Linked DNA regions of Homo sapiens. The protein of the gene in region 1 purifies or fractionates together with the protein of each later gene. This does not show direct contact. Each region holds a gene or a part of one and is shown on either strand. Other genes may lie near its edges.

What was found. Proteins that work in one complex are often made in the same cells at the same time.
Region 2: the proteins of NHSL2 (region 1) and CYFIP1 purify together in Homo sapiens (affinity purification with mass spectrometry; 2 studies listed by BioGRID and IntAct, with this or other methods). This does not show direct contact.

What each region holds. Positions count from the first base shown.
Region 1 is NC_000023.11:72,130,845-72,134,344, forward strand, and holds part of NHSL2 (NHS-like protein 2), read left to right. Parts: coding exon of another isoform or gene 1-696; exon of another isoform or gene 697-1,071; intron 1,072-1,234; coding exon 1,235-1,390; intron 1,391-3,246; coding exon 3,247-3,374; intron 3,375-3,500. Other genes in the region: RTL5 (retrotransposon Gag-like protein 5), read right to left, coding at 1-696.
Region 2 is NC_000015.10:22,970,369-22,973,868, reverse strand, and holds part of CYFIP1 (cytoplasmic FMR1-interacting protein 1), read left to right. Parts: intron 1-3,500. UniProt on the Homo sapiens protein: Component of the CYFIP1-EIF4E-FMR1 complex which binds to the mRNA cap and mediates translational repression. In the CYFIP1-EIF4E-FMR1 complex this subunit is an adapter between EIF4E and FMR1.

The DNA of each region.
Region 1 (3,500 bases):
GATGGGGCCACAGAATTCCTTACGGATTTCATCCAGGAAGCGCGGGAAGTTGGCATGCAAGGGGCTTCCTTCCTGGGTGACCGAGATGGCCCAGTCCTTGGCTTCGCCAGTGAAAAAGGAGATCAGAAAGGCCACCCGCTCGGCGCCCCCGGGGAAATGAACCTCATGGTCGGCTATGAAGGTCTCTAGCTGCATCAGGAATTCAGCCAGGTAGACTGGGTCTCCTGAAAAGGGCTCTATCTCAGGCCGCTCCAGCGGTGCCAGAGGGGGTTGCGGGGGCGGTTCCTTTGACGCGGGCGGAGGCAGCGCCGGCGGGGGCGGGATGGGCAGCAGAGGGGGGTCAGCGGGCCCGTCGGGGGTGCTGCGATCCTGGATCACGTTAATCAAAAGATCATCCGAGATACAGTCGGGCTCCGCGCGTGGGGGAGGCCGGCACAAGAAGGGCAGTTCTCCCCCGGGAATGACTTCGATCTCACTGAGCGCGAACTCCAAGTTCTCCTCCGCAAGGACGGGCACTATGGGTACTGGCCAGCGGATGTAGCTGGAGACATTGCCCCGCAAGGAATTAACCTCGGCCAGGGCTCTCCCGAGCTGGAGGCCCAAATTGGCATTCTCCCCGCGAAGGGCATTTAATTCTTCGCGCAGGGCCACATTCGCCATGCGGAGGCTGTTGAGATTTCCTGACGCCTCAGACATCTCGACAAGCCCAGGGGCCCTGGGGCTCCGTGGTGGGGAAAGGGGAACTGGAACTACGGGCGGCCGGAGGAGGCCGAAATGCGGCGGCGGGGCTCGGGAGGGACCGAAGTGCGGCAGCGGGGCACGGGCCAGGCCGGGCCACACCCACCGGGGCGAGCTCGGAGGGCGGCGCTCTGGGCGGAGGGCCCGGCGGCTCGGCCCAGGGCGCGTTACCTCGTCGCCGGGGCCGGAGAGGGCGGGCGGAGGCACGGGGCCCGGAGGCGCCAGGCGGAGGATGCGGGCGACACGGTGGCGGCGGCGACCGCGCGACCGGGCGGGCGGGCGGGCAGGGGCGAGCGGAGCGGGAGGGAGCGGACTGCGGCAGGATCTGTCGAGGAAAAATCTTGCGGCCGGCGATTCCCCGCCTTTTAAGCGCAGCCTCGCACTCCCCCCACCCCACGCAGGGGCGGGCCTTGGGGAACCGCGGGCGCCCACTGGCCGCCGCGCGCCGCTCCCCTCCAGCTCGCCTGCGCCTCTCACTGACTCTCTCCTTCCCTAGCTGCAGCTAACTCGGGTCGGGAAAATGCGACAGCGACTGCCCACTCGAGGTCGTCATGGCGACAGCCAGTGAACGTGTTCCTCTCCTCGGGCAGGCCCCCGAGTGTAGAGGAGCTGCTTCGGGAGGCGCAGCTCAATCTCCAGAGCCTGTTGCAAGGTACCGAGAGGGAGGGGGGCTGCGGCCGGAGCCCAGAAGCGAGATGCGCAGCGGCAGGAGGGAGGCAAAGAAGAAAGAGGACAGGGACCAGCAAGATAAAGACAGAGAGTTTAAAAACAATCGACAAAGCAGTTTCCAGCTTTCACCTTTCAGCCTAATGATTCTGAAAGAGGCTATTTCCAGGGCTGTTTCCCCCCATCCCCAGCCCCTTTTTTCAGCTCAGTAGCCCATGGGGAAACAAGGACAGAGACTGAGGCAGGGCCATAAGTTATGCCATTCACCGAGAGCTGGGTGGGAGACTCCCACAATGTGGGCCTACATTCCCTCCAGCCCCCCTCTTGCCACATCGCCCATGCCTTTGGGATCCTGGCACCAGAAGACAAAGGGGGCATCTGCAGGATCTCCCACTCTGGGCTTCACTCACTCTGCTCTTGCAATAACCCCTGGATAGCTACTGCCTCACCAAAGTAAGCCCAATACACAGCACCCAGAGGTCACCTATTTTGTCCCCCCTAACCAAGCCTGAGCTTCTCGATGTAAAGAATCACATCTTGCTACCCTTAGGTTTCCAGAAGCACCTGGCACAAGGCTGGATTCCCTCCCCACCTGCCAAGAGGTGCTCAGTGGATGTTGAGCATGAAAAGAGGTCTTGTCAGCACTCCTTTATCTATACTAATAAAGGTTAACTCTAATGGCGAATAGAAAACTGCTGATGGGCCACCAACAGGATGACAGCCATAACCCCCACCCCCTACCAGGGCAGTGGTGACCTTGGAAAAGCAAGATGCCAAGGGACACCATGAGCCTTGTGTTCAGATAACAAAGGACTTGCCACACAGAAAAAGAGTCGATGTGCTCTGTGTTGCTACCATGGCAGAATTAGGACCAGTGGGTGGAAACCCAGAAGGAGGCACATTCCACCTCCAGATAAGGAAGAACTTTCTGACACACCTGACAGCCCCAACTGTCCGTGGAAGAAATGAGCTGCCTTGGGAGGGAGGGAGCTCCCCTTCCCTGCAGGTGTGTGCGCTGAGGCTGAAGAAACACCTAGAAGGGCTGCTGAGGAGGGAGTCTGGGCACAGAATGAGGCGTTGGACCAAAGAACCCCAAGAGCAACCCCAAATCTCTGTGATTCTGAGTCTTTGTTCAGTGTACATACAGCATGAATGTCCCTTCTCTACTCTCACTTTCTTCATGTATTCTCATCAAATTCATCACTTCAATCAACCCTATTCAAATCTTGTGCATCCTTACTCACTGATGATGCCGCTGAACTTCTGCCTCTTTTATGCTGTTACCTCCTCCTTCCCTCTCCTTCACCTTAGCCCTCCTAGACCTGACATCACTTACAGCGGGACTAAGGTGCAGGGAACACGGCCCACAAAGGCTCAAGTAAAAGTTCTTGACATCCAAGAAAGAACTCCAGATTGGACTTCCTGGTGTAAATCTCTTCTTGCTTCACACAGGTCATTTCCTTGGTAGGGTCGCAGAAAACCTTAAGAGCTGCAGGGCTTCAAAGAGAGGAACTTGCAGTCCAAAGTAGCAAAAGGTGTCTGCATTCTGAGCCTCTTTTCGTAACTGAGCACTCAAGGTGGGGATCATTGAGATAAGGGCTTGGTCCCCAAACCACCACAGCATGAATTTATTGACTTTCTCTTCTCCTCGATCCTCATGGTCCTGGGAAGCAAGCACTTTTCCATTTCCAAATCCAGTGGCTCAAACACCTGGAAATAGCCTAAAGAAAATGCAAGTCAGGCCTGGCAGCTAGAGCAGGAGTCCTGGCTCATGGCCCTTCCCCGGCCCAGCGCTCGGCCATGGCACCCTAGAGTGTGTGTCTCCACTGTGCTATTTTTCAGAAGAATATGAGGAACAGTACTCGGAGGCCAGACTTGTGGGGCAGACCTTCCGCTCTTCTGATGAGGCCACTAAGCCCACCCCCAACCCAAGGCCCCAGTCTGCCAGGCGTCTGGAGTTTATATTGATGGTGAGTTGCCTCATCCCCCACCTGGGAGAGCCAGCATGCACCCACTGACAAGAGACCTCCAGCTGCTTACTTTACCCACTGGAAGCTGCTCAGCCCTGCTCACCAGCAGAGCTACCCTGAGGCCCC
Region 2 (3,500 bases), on another chromosome or scaffold:
GATCTTTTACAATTGAGTTGTTTGAATTCTTTGTATATTTTCATTATTAATCCCTTATTAGTTATATGGTTTGCAGATATTTTCCTGCATTCTGTAGATTGTCACTTTGTTGATTGATTCCTTTGCTGTGCAGAACATTTTTAGTTTGATGTAATCCCATTTGTCTATTTTTTCTTTTGTGGCCTTTGCTTTTGAGGCTTTATTTCCTCAAAATAAGCCAGGCACAGAAAGACAAGTACTGCACGATCTCACTCACATGTGGAATCTGAAAACGCTGATGCCACAGAAGAACAGAGCAGAATGGTGGTTACCAGAGGCTGGGGTGGCTGGCGGAAGGGGAGAGAGGAAGATGTTGGTCAAAGGATACACATTTACAGTTAGATACAAGGGGGAAAGTCCAGAATAGGCAAATATACAGAGACAGAGAGTAGACAGGTGATTGCCTGGGGCCAGAAAGCAGGGGAGAGAGGATCAGTGAAGAACGGGTAGAAAAAGTGAGAATAACTGCTAATGGTTAGGGAGTTTCTTCTCCCTTTTTTTTTTTTTTTTTTTTTTTTGACAAGGTCTCGTTCTGTCACCCAGGCTGGAATGCAGTGGGGCAATCATGGCTTACTGCAGCCTTGCCCTTTTGGGCTTAAGCAATTCTCCCACCTCAGCCTCTCCAGTACCTGGCACTACAGGTGTGCACCATCATGCCTGGCTAAATTTTGGTTGGTTGTTGTTTTGTTTTTTTGAGACGGAGTCTCACTCTGTCGCCCAGGTTGGAGAGCAGTGGCGCGATCTTGGCTCACTGCAACCTCTGTCTCCCAGGTTCAAACGATTCTCCTGTCTCAGCCTCCTGAGTAGCTGGGATTACAGGTGTGCACCACCATGCCCGGCTAATTTTTGTATTTTTAGTGGAGGCAGGGTTTCACCATGTTGGCCAGGCTAGTCTCAAACTCCTTACCTCAAGTGATCCTCCTGCCTCAGCCTCCCAAAGTGTTGGGATTACAGGTGTGAGCCACCGCCTAATTTTTGTGTTTTTTTGTAGAAATAAGGTTTCACCATGTTGCTCAGACTGGTCTCAAACTCCTGAGCTCAGGTGATCCCCCTGCCTGGGCTTCGCAGGGATTATAGGCTAAGCCACCGCACCTGGCCACATTTAAGTCTTTAATTCATTTCGGGTTGATTTTTGTCTATGTTGAGAAGCCAAGGTCTGATATTATTTTTCTGTATGTGTGTATCTAGTTTTCTCAACACCGTTTATTGAAGAACCTATCCTTTTCTCATTGTGTGTTCTTGGCACCTTTGTTAAAAATCAGTTGGCTGCAAATGCATGCATTTATTTCCAGGCTCTATTCTGTTCCATTGGTTTATGTGTCTGTGTTTATGACAATAGTGTGCTGTTTGGGTTACTATATCTCTGTAGTTTTTTTTGTTTTGTTTTGTTTTTGAGACGGAGTCTCACTCTGTCACCCAGGCTGGAGTGCAATGGCGCAATCTTGGATCACTGCAACCTCCGCCTCCCGGGTTCAAGCGATTCTCCTGCCTCAGCCTCCTGAGTAGCTGGGGATTACAGGCGTGCGCCACCACACCCAGCTAATTTTTTTGTTTTTAGCAGAGACGGTGTTTCACCATGTTGGCCAGGCTGGTCTCGAACTCCTGCCCTCAGGTGATCCGCCCACCTCAGCCTCCCAAAGTGCTGGGATTACAGGCGGGAGCCACCATGCCCAGCCTCTGTAGTATATTCTGAAGTCAGGTAGTGTGATGCCTCCAGCCTTGTTCTTTTGCTCAGGATAGCTTTTGCTATTCCAAGTCTTTTGTGGTTCCACACAAATTTTAGGATTTCTTTTTCTATTTGCATGAAGAATATGGTAGGTATTTTGATAGAGACTGCATTGAATCTGTAGATTGCATTGAATCTGTAGATTGCTTTGAATCTGTAGATTGCATTGAACCTGTAGATTGCATTGAATTTGTAGATTGCTTTGGGTACTATCTATTGTTTATTTATTTTTTGAGATGAGTTACCTAGGCTGTTACCCAGGCTGGAGTTCAGTGGTGCAGTCATGGCTCACTGCAGCTTTGATATCCTGGGCTCAAGCGATCCTCCCACTTCAGCCTCCTGAGTGTCTGGGACTACAGGTGTGAGCCACCACGTGCAGCTACTTTTTATTTTATTTCTTTTCTTTTTCTTTTTTCTTTTTTTTTTTGAGACAGAGTTTTGGTCTTGTTGCTCAGGCTAGAGTGCAATGGCGCAATCTTGGCTCACCGCAACCTCTGCCTCCCGTGTTCAAGCAGTTCTCCTGCCTCAGCCTCAAGCTACTCAAGCTGGGATTACAGGCGCCCACTACCACGCCTGGCTAATTTTGTATTTTTAGCAGAGATAGGGTTTCTGCATGGTGGTCAGGCTGGTCTGGAACTCCTGACCTCAAGCGATCTGCCTGCCTTGGCCTCCCAAAGTGCTGGGATTACAGGCATGAGCCATCACGCCCAGCCTTATTTTATTTTTTAGTAGAGACAAGGTCTAGCTGTGTTGCCCAGGCTAGTCTTGAACTCTTGAGCTCAAGTGATCCTCCCACCTCATCCTCACAAAGTGTTGGGATTACAGATGTGAGCAACAGCACCTGGTCTATTAATTCTGTTGTTGCCAGTGTTTTTGGTGTCATATCCAAGAAATCATTGCCAAATCTGATGTCATGAAGCATTTCTCCTGTTTTCTTCTAAGAGTTTTATAGTTTTAGATCCGATGTTTAGGCGTTGATCTGTTTTGAATTAACTTTTCTTTTTTGTGTGTGTGTTTGGTTTTTTTTCGAGACAGATCCTTGCTCTGTCGCCCAGGCTGGAGTGCGGTGGCGCAATCTCGGCTCACTGCAAGCTCCGCCTCCCGGGTTCAAGCGATTCTCCTGCCTCAGCCTCTCTAGGAGCTGGGATTACAGGCCCCCGCCACCACACCCAGCTAATTTTTTGTATTTTTAGTAGAGACGGGATTTCACCGTGTTAGCCAGGATGGTCTCGATCTCTTGACCTTGTGATCTGCCCGACTCGGCCTCCCAAAGTGCTGGGATTACAGGAGTGAGCCACCACGCCAGGCCAAATTAACTTTTCTGTATATTATATAAGGTAATGGTCCAACATAATTCATGTATGTGTGGATATTCAGTTTTCCTAACACAATTTGTTGAAAAGACTATTCTTTTTCCATTGAATGATCTTGACATCATTGTTGAAAATTGTTTGGCCACATATGTGAAGGTTTATGTCTGGGTTCTTTGTTCTGTTTAATTGGCCAGTATGCCTTTCTTTATGCCAGTGCCACACTGTTTCAATTACTGTAGCTTTATGGTAAGTTTTGAAATAAAAAGGAGTGAAGTCTCCAACTTTGTTCATCTTTTTCAAGATTGCTTTGGCTATTCTGGGTCCTTGGAGATTCCTATGAATTTTAAAATGGGTTATTTTTGCAAAAACAAAGTGCTGTTGGAATTTTCAAAGGGATTGCATTGAGTCTTTAGAAGGCTTTG